Linked DNA regions of Homo sapiens. The protein of the gene in region 2 interacts with the protein of the main gene of each other region in a pairwise test. Each region holds a gene or a part of one and is shown on either strand. Other genes may lie near its edges. The genes, in order: KRTAP19-4, KLHL42, UBQLN4, ADD1, RCN3, SSX2IP and STXBP4.

Region 1 (2,095 bases), on a different chromosome or scaffold from region 2:
TGGGTCTTACTAGCTGGCTGTATAAACCTATTCTTATGTTTAGTAAACAAGTCTGAGTCTTTCTAATGCTTCTTAATTTTTTATACCATTTGAATTTATCATTATTTACTAATAACTTTTATTTAGATCTAGATATGCTAGAAATTAAGAGGTTCAAGATTCATCAAAATCTTAAATAAAAAGAGGCATATACTGTGAAAAGTAGACTAATCTTCAAAACTCAGCTGTGATTGTTACACGAATATAAGACCAGAATTTTAAGATTATTGGGAAGCATCAAGAAAAGAAATATGCAATGGAATTGAGAGTCAGCATTTAAACAAATAGACAAATAAATAAACAGAAGCCATGTGTGCCATTTCAAATTGAGACAATTTATTGCAAAGGGAACTAAGCAATTACACAGTTAGGAAAGTATAGGTAGTGGATGCCAGTAGACACGATATAGGCAATTATAACATAATGAATATTCCTAACATCTTAGATGCTATTTTTTTTCATCTTGGATTGATCTAGTGTGCCCTTGTTTGACTCAATATTTGGTTAAATTGAATGATCTTCTTATGACCTCTGATATCGTGTCCTCAGGGTAGGATTTCAGTAGAATTGAGAATCCATATCCTCCATAGCATGATGGGCGGCAGTAGCCATATCCGTTGCCTCCAAAGCCACAGCCATAACCCAGTCTGCGGAAGCTGCCACATCCACAGCCATAGCCATAGCCTAGGCCACCAAAGCCTCCACAGCCATAGCCCAGGCCTCTGTAATAGCTGCCATAGTAGCTCATGGCGTCAGGAGTGGTGAGTTGTTTGGCTGCTCAAGGCAAGATCCTAAGTGTGAATGGCAGCACGTGTAGAGGGAGGCTTATATACCCTGATAAGAGTATGTGATGAGTCACATGCGTACCTGTTTTTTTTGTTTTTTTGTTTGTTTGTTGTGTGTGTGTCTGTGTGTGTGTTTTAAATTAGTTACTTAACACAAGTCATTCATTTTTCCCTGGCACAAGGAGAGGCCCTCACAATCGTTAAATTGTTTGAGTTTGCTTTGTTGCTGAATTGGAGTGGCCCTTAAAAGTTATCACACCACTTAATGAGAAGAAATTGCTGTATCTAAAGTCTTGGCATACCAGATCCTAAATAGATTTCTTCATAGCTAGACATATTGCATATTACAAATGAAATAAAATGAAGGTTATATGTTCCTCTAAAGTCAGATGCTATTGGAGCTCATTTCTTTGTCTTCTTTATTTTGCCCAGACTGGTCTCAAGCTACTGGGCTCAAGTGACCCTCCTCCCTCGACCCCCAAAGTGCTGAGATTAGAGGCATAAGCCACCTCACCCAGCCTTCATTTCATCTTTAAATCCCTATTGTTCAGATGTAGCCAGAGAATTACTCATGCCTTTGAGAGGCATAGACTTTAGAATTTATTCATCCTTTCAGCATTTATGTATTGTGTTGTTACTACAAGGTAATTATTGCAAAGAGGCATGCAAATTCAGTTGTGAAAGCACAACATTTGGAAATTACTTATAAGACTAAAAATAACTGATCACTGTATTTGAGATCATATAAGGTTAAAAAGAACTTAAAAGCTCAAAGTTGAAATTAAGGGCACAGCTGAATTAACAATATTTGGGGTCACCTGTGGCTGTATGTGACTAAATTCTTGGAGTCAACTGAGGACTTGCACCCTCAGTTATTTCTTCTGCCTGTTATCTTGTAATATTATACCTACATTTTGGAGATTCTGAAAACATTTCTAATGTTAATGGTATCTTATTGAATTTCAAAGAGCCCTTATATTTAAATTATCTTTTTATATATCCTATACCTTAATAAACATTTAACAACTTAGTGGACTAGCATGGTATTTCCTGAGAAGAAAAAGGTGTATGTGTGTGTGTGTGTGTGTGTGTGTGTGTGTGTGTGTGTGTGTGTGTGATGAATTTGATGAATTTTTGCATATGTGCTTACACTACCTACACCAAGCACACTCTAATCTCCAAAATGTTTCCATTGTTCCATTATGGCAAATATCATTCCCTAGAGATAATCTTCTTTCCAGTTTTTAACAACAGCTTCAAAAGATCTTGTC
Region 2 (3,500 bases):
TCATTCAAATTTCTGTTTTCTAGTGTTTGAAATAAAGGTGCTAGACCAAGTGAATTTCAAGACCACATCCAACCCCAACACAATGATGTCTTCAAAAATAATAATATACTAAGAAAGAATGGAGGTAGAGGCTATGCACACACAAAAAACTTATATAAGGGAGTAGATTAAGAAGAAGCAGTAAACAAGAAGCCCATGCTTGATCCCCTAAAAAGTGTTCAATAAAACTGATGCATTACACTATGGAAACTAGGTTAGTAATAGGCACCTACTAAACAGTTAAGATTTTTTAAAGGTTCCTATCATGTTTATATCTAAATGTGTTTTAGTTTGTTTTTCCAATCAGAGCGTGAATAGAGTACTCTTCATCAAGAGCCTCGTCTTGTCCCTTAAAGCCAGCCAGCCAGCCAGCCAGCCCACTTTTTTGTGCCAACAGACGTCAGGGTGGCAGGTACTGGGGGGTCCCTGATTCCTGCTGCTTACCTTTCTTGCTGCCAATGGTCCTTAAAATCCAACCATGATGCCCTCTCTGTGTGTGCAAATTTGGGGAACCAAAGGAAATAAAGCTTGTAAACAAGCACTAAATTTTCCCAGCCGCAATTTGTTTTTGCTCCCCAAAGGTACACAGATAGTAAATTTTGTAAGATCAAAACAGTTTTTAGTATTTATCCAGCATAATCATTTGTCCTAAGCAAACATGTAAGGGGCTTCTTTTTGAGACCAATGAATAGGCAGTTAAAGTAAATGATTCCATCTCTCCAGACCCCAACACGCTCAAATTCACTTGAAGAGAAACACTTTTTAATGCTGAATTTGTTTTAAGATGAAATTGCCACCTAAAAACAGACCATTTAATAAAGAGGCATACTGCTAAAGGTTATGAGTCCAGGCTTACACAGGGAAGTCTCAGACATCACACATCAATTGCTGTCTGACCTTAGACAAATTACTGAATCTGTTGATCTGTTCCTCAGTTTTCTCATCTGTTAAGTAGGGATAAGAAGGGCACAATATCTGGCATGCAGTAAGAGCTGAAAAGGACAGCACTTGCAGAGATAAGTCTTTCTCCATTGGCATTCTAGGGAGTGCTTCTCTGGGTGTCCTAAGTCTAAGTTTTTCTTAACCTTGGGAGCGTTGGTTTCTCATTTGTCAACTGCAACAGTCACTGACTGTGATGTTTTGTGCTCTCTCATCCACAAATTCTCATCACTTACTGCTTCATTTCCAACTTTCTGAAAATAATTCTTCCACTCTTCACCTCCTGAATGGTAAAGGTATAAATTCAAGCTATCAACTACTTTTCAAAATTATCATCTCTACAGTGTTTTCTTAATTTAACACACTATGTTCACGAGGTAAAAAGAAGAATTTCAAGACCAAGTAACAAGTCATCTATCATAGCTATATACTTGTTCCTTGCAATAAATAAAAATATTATCATTAGAATTTCTGTTTTAAGTGAGAAAATTGGATAAAACCACAATTGAATTTCAAGGTCACTTATAAGAAAAATTTTTTTTAAAAGGAGAGCTTTTTAAGAGACAGGGTCTCGTTTCATTGCCCAGGCTGGAATGCAGTGGCCTGATCATGGCTCACTGCAGCCTTGAACTCCCAGCCTCAAGCAATCCTCCTGACTCAGCCTCCCAAGTAGCTAGGCCACCGTGCGTGGCTTAAAAAGCTCTTTAAACCCCTAAAAGCTAAGTAACATGAAACATGCTTAACACCAGCACGCAGATCTCAAGGATTAACAGTAGCTACATACAACCATAGGAAGGCAAGATGACACAGAGGTCTGGGTGGCTTCGAGTCTAGCCCTGTGATTATGTGGAAGGTAATTAAACTCACTGAGCCTCAGTTTCCACTTTAAGGAAATGGGATTAATAACATCTACCTCACAGAGATGTTGTGAGCATTAATATGAAGTGACACCTCAAGTTGTGACTACAATACCTGACCCAGAGTAAGAGCTCAAGAAATGAAAACCATCATTATGACCCCCTATGTAGAGAAAGAAGTTTGCTTACCATCAGAGTAAAAATTAGAACAAAATGCCAAGATCCTTTCAAAAGTCCTTTCTCAACCACTCAGAACACGACTGCTTAAGTCTGTGGGCCATCCAGGTCCTTTTGTCTCCTCTTTCCCCTTCATCTACTTGCCTTCTGCCATGTCCCTACGCATTAACTTCCCCTAGGGACTAGGAAGGGGAGAAGGGGAAAGGTTAGAAAATAGAGGTAGTCATTGTTGCAACCTATGCCCAGCTCTAAGAAACTCCAAAAGCAAAGATGCAAAAAGCAATTTAAACTGTTGGCCAAAATTAAATGGGGAGTTGGGGGGGAGTGTGAATAGACGTACAGTTTTCTTTCTTGCACTATTCCCAGGCTCTACTACAACATCAACCACAGAAATGCTCCAAAAATGGTAAACATTGGCTGAGAGGAGAAGGGACAGCTCAGCAAACGCTAAGGCTGACAACTGCAATTCCATCTCTGCCAGGAGACACTTGTTTATTAAAGTCTCTCTCTCAGCCTTGCTGTATTCACACATGGAACAGGAGGACTCACTCCAACTCCATTTTCAGAGCTAAAGTGCAGGGCAATGGAAAAGACTAGAGAAAGCTCTGGAAATGGAGAACCTTAATGAACCAACTGCTGCAACAGTGGTCAGTTCCTGCAAGTTATCACTGATTAAAGGGAAAGCAAGCACCCTCGATCTCACAAGCTTTTTTTTTTTTTTTTTTTGAGACAAAGTCTCACTCTGTTGCCCAGGCTGGAGTGCAGTGGTCTGATCTTGGCTCACCGCAACCTCCCCATCCCGGTTTCAAGCGATTTTCCTGCCTCGGCCTCTCAAGTAGCTAGGACTACAGGTGCCCACCACCATGCCCAGCTAATTTTTGTATTATTAGTAGAGACAGGGTTTCACCACGTTGGCCAGGCTGGTCTCGAACCTCTGACCTCAGGTGATCCGCCTGCCTCAGCCTCCCAAAGTGCTGGGATTACAGGTGTGAGCCGCCGTGCCTAGAGGTCTCACAAGCTTTTATGTGTGAAGAGTTACATCCTGACAATTTGTGAGATCAAACCCACGTTCAGACCATCAGGCAGTGTTGCACACTTGGCCTACAGAGCAAAACATTTCTTTTTTACCCTCTGATGGTCATATAGCACCCACTATCTTCTCCAGAGTGCAGAAGGCTTTATAAAATCTCTCAATTGGCCGGGCGCGGTGGCTCATGTCTATAATCCCAGCACTTTGGGAGGCCAAGGCAGGCAGATCACGAGGTCAGGAGATCGAGACCATCCTGGCTAACACAGTGAAACCCCATCTCTACTAAAAATACAAAAAAAAATTAGCCAGGCATGGTGGCGGGCACCTGTAGTCCTAGCTACTCGGGAGGCTGAGGCAGGAGAATAGCGTTAACACGGGACGCGGAGCTTGCAGTGAGCCAAGATTGGGCCACTGCACTCCAGCCTGGGCGACAGAGCGAGACTCTGTCTCAAAAAAAA
Region 3 (3,500 bases), on a different chromosome or scaffold from region 2:
GCACTCTAGCCTGGGCGACAGAGTGAGACTCCATCTCAAAAAAAAAAAAAAAAAAATTCACAAGTTACACAAAGTAAACAAAAGGGTATTCCAAAAAAGTATGGAAAAGTATACAGGCTAAAAAAAGGTTTACAGAAGGGATCCCTCTGTTTCCATCTCCCAGCCAGCTCTTTTCTACCTCAGTGGTAACTAATGTTGTTAGTATCTTGTTTATTTTCCTAGACATATTTAATATTTGCAAATAAGACATAGGTAGAGTTGTAGCCTTTACAAACCCCTCCCCTCTCCTATTCTTTTTCTTTCCAGAGGTAACTAGTATGCTGAAGTTGAAGTTGGGGTTTATCATTCTGATTCTTTTATTACCTATGTATATGTCTATAAACGTCTATATATTATCATATTTTTAAATATGAGGTGGTACCATGCTGGTCTTATTATTTTAACTTGCTTTTGTTTTGAGACAGAGTCTCACTGTTTCGCCCAGGCTGGAGTGCAATGGCGCGATCTCAGCTCACTGCAACCTCCACCTCCTGGGTTCAAGCGAGTCTCCTGCCTCAGCTTTCTGAGTAGCCGGGACTGCAGGCTTGCACCACCACGCCTGGCTAAGTTTTGTATTTTTTAGCAGACACAGGGTTTCACCATATTGGCCAGGCTGGTCTCGAACTCCTGACCTTGTCATCTGCCTGCCTCGGCCTCCCAAAGTGCTGGGATTACAGGTGTGAGCCACTGCACTTGGCTGCTTTTTTTTTTTTTAATACAACCTTTAAAAATGTTTTGTGTTTTTGGTTTGTTTTGTTTTTTTGAGACGAAGTTTCACTCGTTGCCCAGGCTGGAGTGCAATGGCGTGATCTCAGCTCACTGCAACCTCCGCCTCCCGGGTTCAAGTGATTCTCCTGCCTCAGCCTCCCGAGTAGCTGGGACCACAGGCGCCCGCCACCATGCCCAGCTATTTTTTTTTTTTTTTTGTATTATTAGTAGAGACGGGGTTTCACCATGTTGGCCAGGCTGGTCTCGAACTCCTGACCTCAGGTGATCCACCCACCTCGGCCTCCCAAAGTGCTGGGATTATAGGCGTGAGCCACCGTGCCCGGCCTAAAACTGACAAACTTTTAAAATATTTGTTTCATTTAAAAATGACAATTTATTACAAGTTGGTGGAGCGTAGTGGCGCATGCCTATAATCTCAGCATTTTGGGAGGCTGAGGCAGGTGGATCACCTGAGGTCAGGAGTTTGAGACCAGCCTGGCCAACATGGCGAAACCCCATCTCTACTAAAAATACAAAACTTAGCCAGGTGTGGTGGTGGGTGCCTGTCATCCCAGCTTCTCAGGAGGCTGAGGCAAGAGAATTGCTTGAACCCTGGAGGTGGAGGTTGCAGTGAGCCGAGATTGTGCCTTTGCACTCCAACCTGGGCAGCAAAACGAGACTCCATCTCAAAAAAAAAAAATTATTACAAGTTAACATAAATAACATTATTTTGAAAAATAACTTTATTTTCCAAAACAAACAAAACTGTAGAGGAAAGTATGGACTTGTTTTACATTTTTGTAGTTCTCTTTGATGTCTAGCTTACTACAAGACAGCTGGTTCTCAGATCTGCATTCAGTTTGCAATGTCACATGTCATGTAGACTTTGGAAAACTCCACTGTATCCTCATGAGAGAATAAGAGTGAAAAAGACAAATTCATGTCTTAGAATTATGAAAACAGTTTTAATGCTTGCAGGGGTCCCAGGACCACACTTTGAGAACTGTTGTATTAGAGGAGTATTATAAGCATTAGAATAAATGTGTCAGGCACATAGTAGGTGCTCAATAAATGATGGTTGTTATCACTGTGGGTAGTTCAGGAAAAGAGATTTCGTCCTTAGAGTGTACCAGGAAGAATAAAGCGAGCCCAGAACAAGGTGGGGTGAGGTGCTAGGCAAGTATCAGAACAAGAAATCTGAAACAGGCACAGAGGCTGAAACCATGGTGCATGAACCCTGGCCTGTGAGCTCTGTTATCTGAACAGGATCTGGTGAGGTGAAGGAAACAGCTCAGAGTAGGAGAATCCTTGGTTAGCCCCGGTCCCCATGACCCACTTTCAATGAACAGGAAAAGCAGCTCAATATGAAACCCTACGGTGGGGAGGGGCTGAGGTAGGACCACCTGGGAACTCAGGAAAGAGAGCTGCTGAGCTCTTAGACCACAAGAAAGGCTGAGTAGGGAAAACTGAGTCTGGGACTCCCTCAGCCAGAGCTCTGTGCTAGGTGCTGGAGGGGAGGAGGTTCCGGTGTTGCCTTTGGGAAGCACACCATCCCATGGGGTATGGACCTGAGATATCCTGGGGAGCACAGTGAGGAGCATGGTAGGGCAAGGGGGACCAGAAGTAAACTGAGGCCTGTCCATCTGAAGTAGCCAGTGTGTAGAGGTAGGGTTTGGAGCAGGAGGGGAAAACCTAGAGAGGGCATATTCTGCTGGAGGTGTGTTCTGCTAGGGGCCGCCACTGTGGTGTGCCTGGATGGACAGAGAATGCCAGGTAGGGGACCTGGGGAGTGAGGGAAAGGTTCTGGGGAGTTAGGATTAGTCCAAGGAGGCTGGGGAAAGGGAAGATCGGGGTTCAAGTAGAGAGCCAGGTTTGACAGCCCACTCCCATTAAGCCAGTAGTTAGTTATTGAGCACCTACTAGTGTCGGGGCTGGGGGTGCACAGGCAAATCTGACATTGCCTCTGCCCCTTGAGGTACAGGAACACAAATATTTGGCTACACAATGGGAAAACTGTGTGTAAAGTGCGGTGGGTTACATAGGAGATGATTAGAGACCAAATATTGAAAGCCACCGGGGGGATGGGAAGTTTCCAATTATCTGAGAGGTTCAGTTATCCAGTCACTAGCATCAGCTAGCTCCCACCCTATGGAGCAAGGAAGGAGCTATCCATTGTGGGGCAAAGAACTGAACTGAGGACCTCTAAGGTCTTAGATCTCTCTCCCTTTTCTGGGGAAGGGGAGGCTATTAAGTGAGAGGAGAGAATGGGCCTAGCCCTTGTCCCTGATTTGTTTCAGTCCTTAACCCAAAACCTTTCCCTCCTCCCAGTTTGGCAACAATCCCTTCTCTTCCCTGGCCGGGAACTCCGACAGCTCATCCTCCCAGCCTCTGCGGACTGAGAATCGAGAGCCCCTCCCTAACCCCTGGAGCCCCTCGCCCCCCACCTCCCAGGCCCCCGGGTCCGGTGGGGAGGGCACCGGAGGATCGGGGACCAGCCAGGTGCACCCGACAGTCTCGAACCCCTTTGGGATCAATGCGGCTAGCCTGGGGTCAGGTATGTCCTAGGATGGAAGGAGCTTAGTGGGGTCACCAGGGCAGCCCCTCTGTCCCAGGACTGAATGGGGTTCATACTGCTCCAGGATTTTGAAGACAGAGGTGAGACTATCGAGGCCACAGAGGGGGCTCTGCCGTCTGGGATAGTGGCCGGGTGAGGGCTGGTTCTGGCCATGTCCTGATATCCCTAGGAGTGACCT
Region 4 (3,500 bases), on a different chromosome or scaffold from region 2:
GTGAGCCAAGATCGCACCACTGCACTCCAGCCTGGGCAAGAGAGTGAGATTCAGTCTCACAAAAAACAAAAAACAAAAAGATTTGCCTATTGAAGACATTTCACATAAGTAAAATCATGAAGCACATGGTCTCTTGTGTCTGGCTTCTTCCACTTAGCATGTTTTCAGAGTTCATCCATGTTGTACCAGGTATGAGTGCTTCAATCCTTTCTATTGCCAACTACTATTCCATCGTATGAACAGACCACATTTTGTTGATCCACTCATTAGCTGATGGACATCTGGGGTGTTTCACTTTTTGTCTGTTAAACATAATGCTGCTCTGAACATTCACACACAAGCTTTTGTACGGACATATGTTTTCACTTGGCCTTTGCATTCTCAAAGTGTTTTCACAACATTCTCTCTTTCATGTATTACATGGCTACTTAATTTTCCGATGGAGAAAAGTGAGGCTTGGGGCAGCTAAGTGACTTTCTCACCCACTCAACTACCCTCAGCAAACCACAGTAAACCCATAGTGAAGAGCCAGTACTCCTTTCATAATACCACACTGCCTATGGTTACGGCTCCCTCTCCTGTGAAATAAATTTCAAGCGACAGTGTGCAGATGAGGGAAAACATTTTTTAGGTAAGGAACTCCCTAAATCATTCTCAATACGTTAATCCACAAAGCAAATTTAAATTAAGCCCTTCAGAGTAAGAGAAGGAGAGAAGTGTTTGGGATGGGATATTCTAAAGGTCCCTCCCAAATGATGACTTTCTCCTCCCCATGCAAACAGCCACAGCTGCCATTCCAGGCTGCAGAGGCACACATGTAGTTACATCTACTGCGCCCCATTCCTGAGGCATGCCCTTTCCAGCAAATTTGAGATATACCTGTGGACTCTGTCCCCTAACGTCAGCCCCAGATGCCAGACTCCCTGGGCCCAAGGCCTAGATGCAGAGCTCGTCTGTTCTAATACAGATAACAGTATTTTGGAGGCATATATTGCTCAGATCAATTGTATGAACCCTCTTTCCCAACCTCATGAAGCACTGTCTAGGTTTATAATATTTCTGGTAATAAAGTTCAGAAAAAAACAATAATTATATTAATAATATAAGTCATTTGCTGACAGCTTAGTAGGTACCTTTTGGCATTTACTTCATTTAATCCTCACAATAACCATGTAAGATAGGGACTATTGTTACTTTAGTGTCCATACTTAATTATGTGGAGAAAATACACAGTTGGTAGGAGTATAAACCAACGTAACTTCTTAGGAGGATAATCTGGAAACATCTACGGAAAGTAAAAGTGTAATTACTCTTTGACATGGCAATCTCACTTCTGAGAATGTATCTATAGATATACTTCATAGGTGCCCAAAGATGGAAATGTAAGAATATTAATTGGGGCCAGGAGGGTAATTTGGAAATGTCTATGCAAATGAAAAGTGCAATTATTCTTTGACATAGCAATTTCATTTCTGAGAATGTATTTATAGATGTACCTCATAAGTGCCCAATATGGAGATGTAATATTAATTGGAGCACTGCTTATAACAGTAAAAACCTGGAAACAGGTCAGGTGCAGTGACTCATGCCTGTTATCCTAGCATATTCAGAGGCTGAGACAGGAGGATCACTTGAGACCAGGAATTCAAGACCAGCCTGAGCAACACAGCTCAGGCTTTTGAAACCTTATCTCAAAAAAAAAAAAAAATTAGCCAAGCCTGTTGGCATGAACCTGCAGTCTTAGCTACTTCAGAGTCAGAGGTGGGAGAATGGCTTAAGCCCAGGAGTTCAAGGCTGCGGCAAACTATGATCACATCACTATATTCCCGCCTAGGTGACAGAGCAAGAGTCTGTCTCAAAAAAAATAAATTAATTAAATAAATATATGCTCAACATGTTTAAGCTGACAGTTATCAAAAACAGTGTTACACATTAGTTATAACAACTGTTTAAAAAGGTACTTCTAGAAAAATTAAGCTCAAAAGGCAAACTGTATTAAATGTGCTTCCCCTCATTCCTTTAAACTCAAGGTTCCTCAATGTAGAAAGGCCAGAATAAGCATTAACAATTAAACAACTCTATTAAAGTTTAATATTATGCTATGTTAAGATTCCTATTTTTTTTTTTTTTTGAGACGGAGTCTCACTCTGTCCCAGGCTGGAATGCAATGGCACGATCTCAACTCACTGTAACCTCCGCCTCCTGGGTTCAAGTGATTCTCCCGCCTCAGCCTCTTGAGTACCTGGGATTACAGGCATCCACCACCAAGCCTGACTAATTTTTGTATTTTTAGTAGAGACAGGGTTTCATCATGCTGGCCAGGCTGGCCTCGAACTCCTGATCTCAGGTGATCCACCTGCCTCGGCCTCCCAAAGTGCTGGGATTACAGACGTGAGCCACCATGCCCAGCCTTGCCTCCCACTCTATTCAAAGTCATCCCTTTGCTCACTGAGATAGATGCATATCTGGTTGCCTCCTTAGGAAAGGCTTATCAGAAACTCAAAAGAAGGCAACCATTTGTCTCTCACCTACTTGTGACCTGGAAGCTCCCTCCCTGCTTCAAGCTGTCCCCGCCGTTCTGGACTGAACCAATGTACTTCTAGCATATATTGATTGATGTCTCATGTCTCCTTAAAATGTATAAAACCAAGCTGTGCCCAACCACCTTGGGCACATGTCAATCAGGACTTCTGGAGGCTGTGTCACAGGCACACATTCTCAACACTAGCAAAATAAACTTTCTAAGTTAACCGAGACCTGTCTCAAATTTTCGAGGTTCACGTGTTCATCTTGTTCTGAGACTGAAATGTGTACGGTGTGGGTTGAAACAGTGAGCAAGTAGAACCAAAATGTTTGGCTTAGAAGAAAAGTAGATACAGGTATATAAAAATGAGAAGGTTGAGTAGAATCCTAGTCTTACTTCCTTTTTTTTTTTGAGACGGAGTTTCGCTTTTGTTGCCCAGAATGGAGTGCAATGGCACTGCGACCTCCGCCTCCTGGGTTCAAGCGATTCTCCTGCCTCAGCCTCCCTAGTAGTGGGGATTACAGGCATGCACCACCATGCCCAGCTAATTTTTGTATTTTTAGTAGAGATGAGGTTTCACTGTTGTCCAGGCTGGTCTCAAACTCCTGACCTCAGGCGATCCACCTGCCTCAGCCTCCCAAAGTGCCGGGATTGTGAGCGACCGCACCTAGCTTGTTTTTTGTTTTTGTTTTTGTTTTTTTGAGACGGAGTCTCGCTCCGTGTCGCCCAGGCTACAGTGCAACGGAGCGATCTCCACTCACTGCAAGCTCCGCCTCCCGGGTTCACGCCATTCTCCTGCCTCAGCCTCCCGAGTAGCTGGGACTACAGGCATCCGCCACCACGCCCAGCTAATTTTTTGCGTTTTTAGTAGAGACGGGATTTCACCATGTTAGCCAGGATGGTCTCGATCTCCTGACCTCATGATCCGCCCGCCTCGGCCTCCCAAAGTGCTGGGATTACAGGTGTGAGCCACCAC
Region 5 (3,500 bases), on a different chromosome or scaffold from region 2:
AGTGGGAGGTGAGGGCAGAGAAGGAGCAAAGGGGTTCAGCATGGTGGTTCATGTGTGTGATCCCAGCACTTTGGGAGGCCAAGGCTGGGGGATCACTTGAGCCCAGGAGTTCAAGACCAGCCTGGGCAACATAGTGATACCCCGCCTCTACAAAACAAATACAAAAATTAGCCCAGCATGGTGGCGTGCTCCTGTAGTCCCAGATACTAGGGAGGCTGAGGAGGGAGGATCACTTGGGCCTGGGAGGTCAAGGCTGCAGTGAGCCAAAATCATGCCGCTGCACTCCAGCCTAAGCAACAGAGCAAGACTTTGTCTCAAAAAGAGAGAGGGCCAGGTGCAGTGGCTCACGCCTGCAATCCCAGCACTTTGGGAGTCCAAAGCGGGCGGATTGCCTGAGACCATGCAAAGGGGGTCAGATCATGCAATGCAAAGCCTTTTAGGCCACGATGAAGATTTAGGCTTTTCTCCAATTGAGAGTAGAACTGAGGGAGGGCATGAGCTGACTTAGGTTTTGAGAGAATCCTGCTGGCTGCGAGGTGGGGAACAGACTGTAGGGAGCAAGAAGCAGGGAGCCCAGTGAGGAAGCGACTGCGATAGTCCAGGTGGAAGACAAGACAAGATGGTGGTCAGATCAGGGTGGAGACAGTGGCAGTGGTCCCCAGGACTGCTGGCTGGGAGATTGTGCTTGGATGGGCATGCATGAAGGAGAAATGGAGGAAGAAGGGCAGTGACAGGTTAGCACATTTAGCTTAGCACTAATGGCAATGCCAGGCATTGTCCTAAGTGCTTTATTATTGTTATTATTATTATTATTTTGAGACGCAGTCTCGCTCTGTCTCCCAGTCTGGAGTGCAGTGGCGTGATCTCGGCTCACTGCAAGCTCCACCTCCCGGGTTCATGCCATTCTCCTGCCTCAGCCTCCCGAGTAGCTGGGACTACAGGCGCCCACCACCACGCCCAGCTAATTTTTTTGTATTTTTAGTAGAGACGGGGTTTCGCCGTGTTAGCCAGGATGGTCTAGATCTGCTGACCTCGTGATCCACCCACCTCGGCCTCCCAAAGCACTGGGATTACAGGCGTGAGCCATGGCGCCTGGCCTTTTTTTTTTTTTTTTTTTTTTTGAGACAGAGTCTCACTCTGTCATCCAGGCTGGAGTGCAACGGCGCGATCTCGGCTCACTGCAAGCTGCGCCTCCCAGGTTCACGCCATTCTCCTGCCTCAGCCTCCCGAGTAGCTGGGACTACAGGCACCTGCCACCACGCCCGGCTAATTTTTTGTATTTTTAGTAGAGACGGGGTTTCACCATGTTAGCCAGGATGGTCTCGATCTCCTGACCTTGTGATCCGCCCTCCTCGGCCTCCAAAGTGTTTTTTGTTTGTTTGTTTGTTTTTGAGACAAGGTCTTACTCTGTTGCCCAGGCTGGAGTGCAGTGGCACGATCTCGGCTCACTGCAACCTACGCCTCCTGGGTTCAAGCAATTCTCCTGCCTCAGCCTCCCGAGTAGTGGATATTACAGGCATCCACCACTGTGCCCGGCTACTTTTTGTATTTTTAGTAGAGACGGTTTCACCATGTTGGCCAGGCTGGTCTGGAACTCCTCACCTCAGGTGATCTGCCCACTTCGGCCTCCCAAAGTGCTGGGATTACAGGCGTGAGCCACCGTGCCCGGCCTATTATTGTTATTATTATTTGAGACGGAGTCTCGCTCTGTTGCCCAGGCTGGAGTGCAGTGGTACTATCTCGGCTCACTGCAACCTCCACCTCCCAGATTCAACCAATTCTCCCGCGTCAGCCTCCAGAGTAGCTGGGATTTCAGGTGCGTGCCACCATGCCCTGCTAATTTTTGTATTTTTAGTAGAGACAAGGTTTCACCATGTGGACCAGGCTGGTCTGGAACGTCTGATCTCAAGTGATTCGCCTGTCTTGGCTTCCCAAAGTGCTGGGATTACAGGCGTGAGCCACCGCGCCTGTCCTGTCCTAAGTGCTTTACATGGCCTAACTCATTTATTCCCCACAACCGCCCTTTTGGGGTAGGTACCGTTTTTTCTTCCTCCGTTTTACAGAGGGGTAACTGAGACACAGAGAGGTTAAGTCACTTGCCCACAGTCACACAGCCAGTAAGAGGAAGTGGCTGGATTTGGACCTAAAATGTCTGGCTGTGGAGCCCAAGCGCTTAACAACACCAGGAACCTCAGAGAAGGGTGTGATTCCGGGGACAGAGTGGGGCCCTAGACAGACTGGAGCAGAGACCGCCTGGTGCGGGAGGTGGGGCGGTGACTCAGGCAGGCCTGGAGAGGGCTCTGCTGTCTCGGATTTTCGACTTTAGGGAGGGGGCCGCGGGGGCCTAGGGACGGTGACAGGGAGGAGGGCTCCAGGTAGTCTCTGTTAATTAGAGATTGGGAGAGGACCGGCCTGGCAAGGCGTCACCAAGGGAGAGGAGAGGGGCCCGAGAGCTGATAGGCGTGGCCCAAGAGAAGGGGAGAGATGGAACCTAAAGTGGCTTGACATGCGACAGGGAGGGGCACAGGAGCCCGGAGGAGCATGGGGAGGGGCAGAGGGAGACTGAGCCCCCGGGGTTGCGGGTGATGGTCCTCAGGCAGTGCCTGATTCAGCCGGGAGCAGGCAGGGGAAAGCCACGGGGCTCAGCACAGGGCAGGGCTGGAGGGAGAGGAGCCTGAAATTGACACGCGCAGCCTGGTAAGGGGGAGGGGCATGGGGCGGGTCGGGGCCTGAGACAGCGGGGGATCGGGGGTGTGGCCGTGGCTGTCTGGGTTCAGAGTCAATCTTGCAACAGGGCCCCCTTGGCAAGGGTCACAGTGCGACGCCGCGCTCCCCTTCACCACCCCAGCTCGGCCCAGCGAGAGGTGCAGCACGTGCAGGCCGAGGGCGGGGCCGGCGCGGAGAGGGTGGCCCTGCATCGTAGTAGGTCCCTCCCCCGCAGTGCTCCCAGCAGGCCCGCTCGTTCTGGAGAAGGGCGTGACTCGACCTGGGGGTGGACCCTAGGCTGAGGGGTAGGGTCCTCCGGTGGGCTTGGTCCCGAAATTGACCCGCGCCCCTCCCCAGTTAGCCCGCGGACCGTGGACTGTATTTTCAGCCCCGGATCCGAAGTGTCCCAGGGGGCGTGGCCCGTGCGAGGGGCGGGGCCTGGGGGCGGGACCAGAGCCTGACGTGTGCCCGCCCCGGCTTCTAGGCGGATCGTGGACCGCATGGACCGCGCGGGGGACGGCGACGGCTGGGTGTCGCTGGCCGAGCTTCGCGCGTGGATCGCGCACACGCAGCAGCGGCACATACGGGACTCGGTGAGCGCGGCCTGGGACACGTACGACACGGACCGCGACGGGCGTGTGGGTTGGGAGGAGCTGCGCAACGCCACCTATGGCCACTACGCGCCCGGTACGCGGCGAGCCCCCGACCCTGCTCCCCATACACCGTGACCCTGACCTTCTGGACCGCCTCATTCTGAGAACCCTGAACCCATTTACCCGGAGTCCCTGGCCCCT
Region 6 (3,500 bases), on a different chromosome or scaffold from region 2:
TATTACAGACTCCTACAATCTGTTTTCAATATTATAAAACAGTAATCTTTTTAAAACTTAAGACTTTTTTTCACTCTCTTGCTTAAAACTAGTGTTTTTTCTATTCCCCTTAGAACAATATTTGACCTGCAAATGCACACTAAAATATTCTGTAAATGAAATCCCAGATGTGTTGGGGCTGGGGTGGAGAGAGCAAGCAGAGTGGGATTATATATGAACAATATTGATCAGAGTTAATAATTGCTGAACCTGAGTCATAGGTACACGTGGGTTCACGATCTTATCCTCTCTGTATATTTGAACTTTTACATCTCTCCATCCTCATCTCACACCTCTAGGTCTTGGTCACCATTGCAAATGTATGAGGTGTGTCCCACCCTCAGGGTTCCTACACTTGGCTAGAGTGCTCTTACCTAGCTCTTTTTCATCCCCTCTAACATTTACTTGGAGTCCTAATCCCCCCACCTCTTAAAAGTCAACTACAACTTATAGTGTGTTCTCCTCCTTCTTTTAAAAGCTTCCTTTCTTGTTTTAAACTCCATCTATTTCATAATTCTTGGCCCAAGGGCCAGCTGGCTTCTTCGACACTTAGTTCCACTCCAGTCTCTAACACAGGCCGAGTTTGCTTCAGCTCTGACTGTTTTCCAAGGCCATTATCTCCTACTTTTAATTAAGAGCAAAGAGATTACCACCATACTTTCCAACTTACCCCTCTGATCTTTTCTATTCCTCTCTGTCTTACTAGGAATGTTCTACCTGCTTCCTCTTCTTCGTTTAAAACTAATCTTGGAATTGGCACTGAAGCAGAGTATTGATCTTATCTTAGAAAATGATATAATAACTTGAGATACAGGAAAACACCAAAATGTAGCAATTAAGAGCAACATATGGGTTTCCCAGGGTGGAGAGCCATGTTTTTTTACACTGTCATCCTTGGGCACAAATCTTTTTCACTCAACAGGAACAGGCTTTTCTCAGTTCTTTGCCCTTCAACAACAATAAAATGGGCATGCCGGAAAAAAGTGTTAAGATATGTACTCTACAAAAACTGTCAAAACAATATCCTTCCATTTAATACAATTAAAGTGCTTAAAATATTAACTCCTATAATTAAGACTACATTCTAAATTGTATCTTAAATGTGAAATAAAAAGACACACATCATATGATTTACCTCCAAGAAGACAACAGATCTACCTGTTCACTAGTGTATTTCCAGCATCTAGCACAGTGTCTATATATACTGGACACTCAATATTTGTAGAATGAATAAATCATCTACTAAATTCCTCTCCAAAATCTCTATTGTTGCTAATACTACAGACATGCCACCTTTCCCTTAGCAGTGCAACTTTAGCAATTTTTAGAAACACGTGAAAAGATCACCTATAGACAAATACCTATGTTCAGATATGCAGGAACGTGTCTGGCAAAAGTCTGAAGTGGAAGGTGAAGCAGGAAGAGATTTAGTAAGTTTAGACATGCAAACTGGAGACCCATTAGACACACTGTGAGGCTTCTTTTGCGGCTGCCTCGAGTGCACTATAAGATTGTCCCAATCAGAACCTGTTGTAAAACAAGTAAGAGAAAAAGGCAGTACATATGGTGAGGCATTAAATATAGTGAAGGTAAATCATCAGGATGATTCATCTGCGGTTCTGAGTGAGGAAAGAGATGGAACAAATTCAAATTAATTATCATTAATCTTGCTTATCTTTGTTGCATAGTCCACCCATGTTTAAAAGGATCTTTTTTTTTTTTGAGATGGAGTCTTGCTCTGTCACCCAGGCTGGAGTGCAGTGATGCGATCTTGCCTCACTGCAAGCTCCACCTCCTGGGTTCACGCCATTCTCCTTCCTCAGCCTCCCGAGTAGCTGGGACTACAGGGGCCCGCCACCATGCCTGGCTAATTTTTTTGTATTTTTAGTACAGACGGGGTTTCACTGTGTTAGCCAGGATGGTCTCGATCTCCTGACTTCGTGATCCACCTGCCTCGGCCTCCCAAAGTGCTGGGATTACAGGCGTGAGCCACCGTGCCCAGCCAAAAGGATCTAGTTTTAAAAATATTTCTAGGCTGGGTGGGGTGGCTCACACCTGTAATCCTAGCACTTTGGGAAGGTGAGGCGGAATGACTGCTTAAGCCAGGAGTTTGAGACCAGCCTGGGTAGTATAGCGAGGGCTTGTCTCTACAAAAAAGTTTTTAAAATTATCTGGGTATGGTGGTGTGTGCCTATAGTCTCAGCTACTCAGGAGGCTGAGGCAAGGAGGATTGCCTGAGCCCAGGACGCTGAGGCTGCAGAGAGCCGAGATGCACTCCAGCCTGGGTGACAGAGCAAGACTACATCTTGAAAAAAGAAATTCTCAATGTAAATTTTCAAAAACTTCGCATTATTACAAACTCACAACAAAAGTTACTTTGGGCATGCACAGTCCCCCTCTCATCCTCACTTTCACTACAGTAAATAAAATATTAAAGTTGATTTTTAGGCCAGGCGCAGTGGCTCATGCCTAATCCCAGCACTTTGGGAGGCTGAGATGGGTGGATCACCTGAGGTCAGGAGTTCAAGAACAGCCTGGCCAATATGGTAAAAACCCGTCTCTACTAAAAATACAAAAATTAGCCAGGCGTGGTGGCACATGCCTGTAATCCCAGCTACTCAGGAGGCTGAGACAAGATAATCGCGTGAAGCTGGGAGGCAGAGGTTGCAGTCAGCCAAGGTCACGTCACTGCACTCCAACCTGGGCGACAGAGCAAGACTCCGTCTCAAAAACAAACAAAAAAAAGTTGACTTTTAGTTATAATTAGAGAGCTCTAATTGGTGATTTCCAAAGTTTTGTATTAATAATATGTAGTATTTTGTAATATGTAAATAATTTTATTTATATGCATGTTCAAATTAAAGAGTTTATAAAGTACTCACTTCCTGAGAAGGCACTGAAAAGTTTCACATTTTCTGAGTTCTGGTGGTCAAAGGTAGTCATATTTAGAAACTGCTGCTTTAACCAACTGGCTCTTTCTTCTTCAAATGCCTTTCTCTACCATAAACAGCCAAAGAAATAATGATCAATATTTCAACATCCACACAGTTGCCATTTCACATGATTGCTCTAGCTATCTTTGTTTGCTCTCTGGCTATCTATTCGTACTTCTTATGTCAAATGAGTTAACCTAAAAAACTAAAAATAATTTCAGCACTCGTCTGTAATCCCAGTATTTTGGGAGGCTGAGGGTTGGTGGAGCACTTGAACTGAGGAGTTCCAAACCAGCCTAGGCAACACGGCAAAACCCTGTCTCTACACGAAATACAAACATCAGCTGGGCATGGTGGCACAGGACTACAGTCTCAGCTACTTTGGAGGCTGAGGAGGGAGGATGGCTAGAGGCTGGGAAGTTGACGCTGAAGTGAGCCGAGATAGCACCACTGCACTCTAGCCTAGGTGACACGGCAAGACCGTATCTCCAAAAAAAAAAAAAAAAAAAAAAAAAAAGCCGGGCGCAG
Region 7 (3,500 bases), on a different chromosome or scaffold from region 2:
TTTAAGTTATTCTTTATTTTTTGAATGGCTTACAACAAGGATATATACTTTGATATATTATTTGGATAAAGAAGGAAAAATATCAAAAAAGTTACCATGTTCCAGTGTACCTTCTTGGCATCTAAATATCAGCTCTTTCTAATTATGTCTCCTTTAATGTCATTTTACCCTTTATGTTATTTTCTTCTTTCATCTTCATTTGCTAAGGTATCAACAAATGTTGCAATTTAAAAGAGAAAATAACATAGATCTGGTGTTTCACAAAGAAATTCAGCTACATCCTTTAAATAACTTCTTATGACAACTCCTTTGTAAGCAAATTGACAGGCAGTAGAAATAAATACACTTATTTTCTGCTATAATTTAAAAAGAAAGATGACTCATAGCAAAGAAGCTCATAGTACATATTACATAGTACATATATTTCATGTTTTTTTTATTGCATTGGGAAGAGTACCAGTCCAGAGGGTAGATGCCCACTAGACATATGACTTTGAGCAGCCACTTACTCTGCTCCCTAGTCTTCATATGTACGATGTCAAAATCATTCATAAAATGATCTTTAAAGGTTCTTTCTTGGCTCTACAAATCAAAAATTTTATGGCAGGCTTATTAAACTACAAGTCTCCCAATGTTTTTTGAGGGAACGATTTTCTTTTTAAAATATACGTCCACCTCTAAGATCAGTATGACCCATGAATGGGATGGGGTAGGCTGCAGTTGGTCATTTGGGAGGGATTAGAGTGGAGGGAAAAGTGTACTAGTGTAGTGACATTTCACATTAAGGTCATTTCAAAAGAGGAAGAGGGCACAATGATGTTGGCTGCTCAGTAAATAATCTGTCTGGTTTCTGTGGACTGACAAGTTAGAAATGCCTACTATTTATTTATTCACTAAAGCTAATATTAAAAATGTAAATATTTCTTCCTATAAAGTTGGATGTATTATACTTGAGGAGACACAAAAATGACAGCATTTAGAAACTGGTAACTTGTTTTATACCTTATCACAGCAGAGATTCCTCAAGATAACATCAGCTATTTATATAATCCTAAGGTTGTTTAAGAAAATTGGCAAAATCAGGAATGACTATTTTCCCTGGGCTAAACTTAACTGATCATTTTTAAATGACATGAAAGTTTCAGGAAACCAATATATAAAAGATCAAAGAGTTATAGTCATCCCTCAGTATTTTCAGGGAACTTGTTCCAGGACACTGCAGATACCAAAATTAGAAGATATTCAAGTCCCTGATATAAAATGGTGTAGTATTTGCACATAACCTATGCATATCCTCTCCTATATTTTAAATCATCCCTAGATTACTTATAATACAAAACACAATGTAAATATGTTATGCTATATTATTTAGGGCATGATGACAAGAAAAAGTGTGTACATGTTCAGTAAAGACACAGCCATTGTAGGCCTAATGTTCATTTTCAATCTGTGATTGGTTGAACCTGTGTATGTGGAACCTGCGGATACTGATGGCCAACTGTATTTTATTATCTTTTATTCTGTACCCAAAGGCAATATTCTGTTTACTAGTGCATGTTTTTTTCTTTCAAGAATCTAACGAGTTCAGAAATGCTACTCATTTGTCTTGGGGGTGTTACCAAAATGCCAGGGGTTCGGTTTAGGTCCTGTTGCTCACTACACAGAAAACCAATCACTGAAAGGAGTATTGCCAGGGAAGAAGGCTTTAACTGGGTGCCGCAGCCAAGGAGATGGGAAATTTGTATCCCTCTCCCTGACGAGCTAAAATTAGGGGCTTATATGGCAGGGAAAAAATGTAAGTATGTGTGGGAAAACAGGAATTAGGGAGGGGTAAGGAAGAGGAGTTGGTCAACAGGTAGCAAGTGATTGGTTAGGCCAGCAGTCCCCAACCTTTTTGGTACCAGGGACCAGTTTTGTGGAAGACAATTTTTCCACGCATGGGGGTGTGGGGGATGGTTTCCAGATGAAACTGTTCCACCTTAGATCATCAGGCATTAGATTCTCATAAGGAGCATGCAACCTAGACCACTCATATGCCTAATTCATAATAGGGTTCTCACTCCTGGGAGAATCTAATGCTGCCACTGATCTGACAGGAGGTAGAGCTCAGGTGGTAATGCCCACTTGCCCTCCACTCACCTCCTGCCGTCTGGCCGGGTTCCTAACAGGCCATGGACGGCTACTAGTCTGCAGCCTAAGGACTGGGTACCCCTGGGTAAGGCAGTCATGATGGCTGAAGGGTCTGGTATCATATTGTCCAGATGCAATGATCTGGTAAGTTTCAGTTTCTTGATAGTATCTGGGAGGCCTGATGGTTGGTTTCCTGAGAAAGTAACTCAGATAAGACAAATTTAACTTTCTCAAGTTTTAACAATGGGAGAATCAATTTCTGTGCTTATTCAAAGAAATGATTAATATCAGTTCTATGGGACAATTGGTCCTATTTCAGGATGCATAAGCATCTGCCTGTAACACACAGCCCAACTCAGTGGGAAACATCAGAAAACTACTTCAAAGAAAGTCTTAGTCTTCTTGAAAGGAGTCTTCATCAGCACAACAGCTCACTGCTCTCAGAAGTTTCCTTAGGCTACCGGACTGCCTTCTGTTTGCTTTCATTCATGCATTCATCCACCAAATTTTTAACTCAGTACAATTATGTGCAGGTACAACACTAAGGGCATGTGATATTATGGTGAACAAGTCAAGATCATTGCTCTTTTGGTATTTACATTCTAGTGGTGGGAGAAAAACAATAAAAAAAAGATACAATTAAATGAACTAGATTTCAGATATTGAAAGGTGATAGCAAATGTGACTAAGGAGAGAAGGGCTAATTTAGACTGGGGAGGGTGTCCCAGCTAAGATCCAAATAATAAGTCATCTGTGAAAAAAGCTGAGGGACAAAGCATTCCAGGCAGAGAAAAGGTCTGAGGGCAGTAAAACAAACTTGAGGTGTTTAAAGAAAAGAAAGAAGTGCAACTGGAGTGTGGTGAACAGGGAGAGAGTGGTAGGAGATAAGGTTAGAGAAGTAGGCAGGGTCTGGATTTCCTAGGGTCTTATGGGCTATGGTAGCAAGTTTGGAGTTTTGATCATATTTCACTTAACCTGACTATTCTCAGGAGACCTGAATTTGCCTTTCCCTTTATCTCTTACCTTTAACCTTCTAAAGGTTAAAAGTAAAGGCTCTAAAGGCTCTCCACTTTTGTACTTTCCCTAGTTTTCTGCCTTTGCCTTTAATCACATAATTAAATCACGTAATTAGACTGTGCTTTGGCCTGAATCATGTGAGACTGTCTGTCAGTGCATTTGAGATATAATATTGTGCCTATATCTGTATCTGCATCTCTATCTATATTTATATCTATTTACATCTTGACCAGGACTGGCTGCATAAATTGCAGGGCCCAATACAAAATGAAAATGCAAGGCCCCATGTTAAATAATTATTAAGAATTTTTAGCAGGGCATGGTGGTATGCGCCTGTAATCCCAGCTACTACT

What was found.
Region 1: the proteins of KLHL42 (region 2) and KRTAP19-4 interact in binary tests that used the Homo sapiens proteins (3 or more experiments, as listed by UniProt).
Region 3: the proteins of KLHL42 (region 2) and UBQLN4 interact in a two-hybrid assay, tested with the Homo sapiens proteins (one large-scale study listed by BioGRID and IntAct).
Region 4: the proteins of KLHL42 (region 2) and ADD1 interact in a two-hybrid assay, tested with the Homo sapiens proteins (one large-scale study listed by BioGRID).
Region 5: the proteins of KLHL42 (region 2) and RCN3 interact in a two-hybrid assay, tested with the Homo sapiens proteins (one large-scale study listed by BioGRID and IntAct).
Region 6: the proteins of KLHL42 (region 2) and SSX2IP interact in binary tests that used the Homo sapiens proteins (3 or more experiments, as listed by UniProt).
Region 7: the proteins of KLHL42 (region 2) and STXBP4 interact in a two-hybrid assay, tested with the Homo sapiens proteins (2 studies listed by BioGRID and IntAct).

What each region holds. Positions count from the first base shown.
Region 1 is NC_000021.9:30,496,324-30,498,418, forward strand, and holds KRTAP19-4 (keratin-associated protein 19-4), read right to left. Parts: upstream 843-2,095; 5' UTR 788-842; coding exon 533-787; 3' UTR 501-532; downstream 1-500. UniProt on the Homo sapiens protein: In the hair cortex, hair keratin intermediate filaments are embedded in an interfilamentous matrix, consisting of hair keratin-associated proteins (KRTAP), which are essential for the formation of a rigid and resistant hair shaft through their extensive disulfide bond cross-linking with abundant cysteine residues of hair keratins.
Region 2 is NC_000012.12:27,786,733-27,790,232, reverse strand, and holds part of KLHL42 (kelch-like protein 42), read right to left. Parts: intron 2,195-3,500; exon of another isoform or gene 2,025-2,194; intron 1-2,024. UniProt on the Homo sapiens protein: Substrate-specific adapter of a BCR (BTB-CUL3-RBX1) E3 ubiquitin-protein ligase complex required for mitotic progression and cytokinesis. The BCR(KLHL42) E3 ubiquitin ligase complex mediates the ubiquitination and subsequent degradation of KATNA1.
Region 3 is NC_000001.11:156,043,799-156,047,298, reverse strand, and holds part of UBQLN4 (ubiquilin-4), read left to right. Parts: intron 1-3,075; coding exon 3,076-3,301; intron 3,302-3,500. UniProt on the Homo sapiens protein: Regulator of protein degradation that mediates the proteasomal targeting of misfolded, mislocalized or accumulated proteins.
Region 4 is NC_000004.12:2,846,844-2,850,343, reverse strand, and holds part of ADD1 (alpha-adducin), read right to left. Parts: intron 1-3,500. UniProt on the Homo sapiens protein: Membrane-cytoskeleton-associated protein that promotes the assembly of the spectrin-actin network. Binds to calmodulin.
Region 5 is NC_000019.10:49,531,003-49,534,502, forward strand, and holds part of RCN3 (reticulocalbin-3 precursor), read left to right. Parts: intron 1-3,190; coding exon 3,191-3,393; intron 3,394-3,500. UniProt on the Homo sapiens protein: Probable molecular chaperone assisting protein biosynthesis and transport in the endoplasmic reticulum.
Region 6 is NC_000001.11:84,648,962-84,652,461, forward strand, and holds part of SSX2IP (afadin- and alpha-actinin-binding protein), read right to left. Parts: intron 3,037-3,500; coding exon 2,922-3,036; intron 1,567-2,921; coding exon 1,401-1,566; intron 1-1,400. UniProt on the Homo sapiens protein: Belongs to an adhesion system, which plays a role in the organization of homotypic, interneuronal and heterotypic cell-cell adherens junctions (AJs).
Region 7 is NC_000017.11:54,975,265-54,978,764, reverse strand, and holds part of STXBP4 (syntaxin-binding protein 4), read right to left. Parts: intron 1-3,500. UniProt on the Homo sapiens protein: Plays a role in the translocation of transport vesicles from the cytoplasm to the plasma membrane. Inhibits the translocation of SLC2A4 from intracellular vesicles to the plasma membrane by STX4A binding and preventing the interaction between STX4A and VAMP2.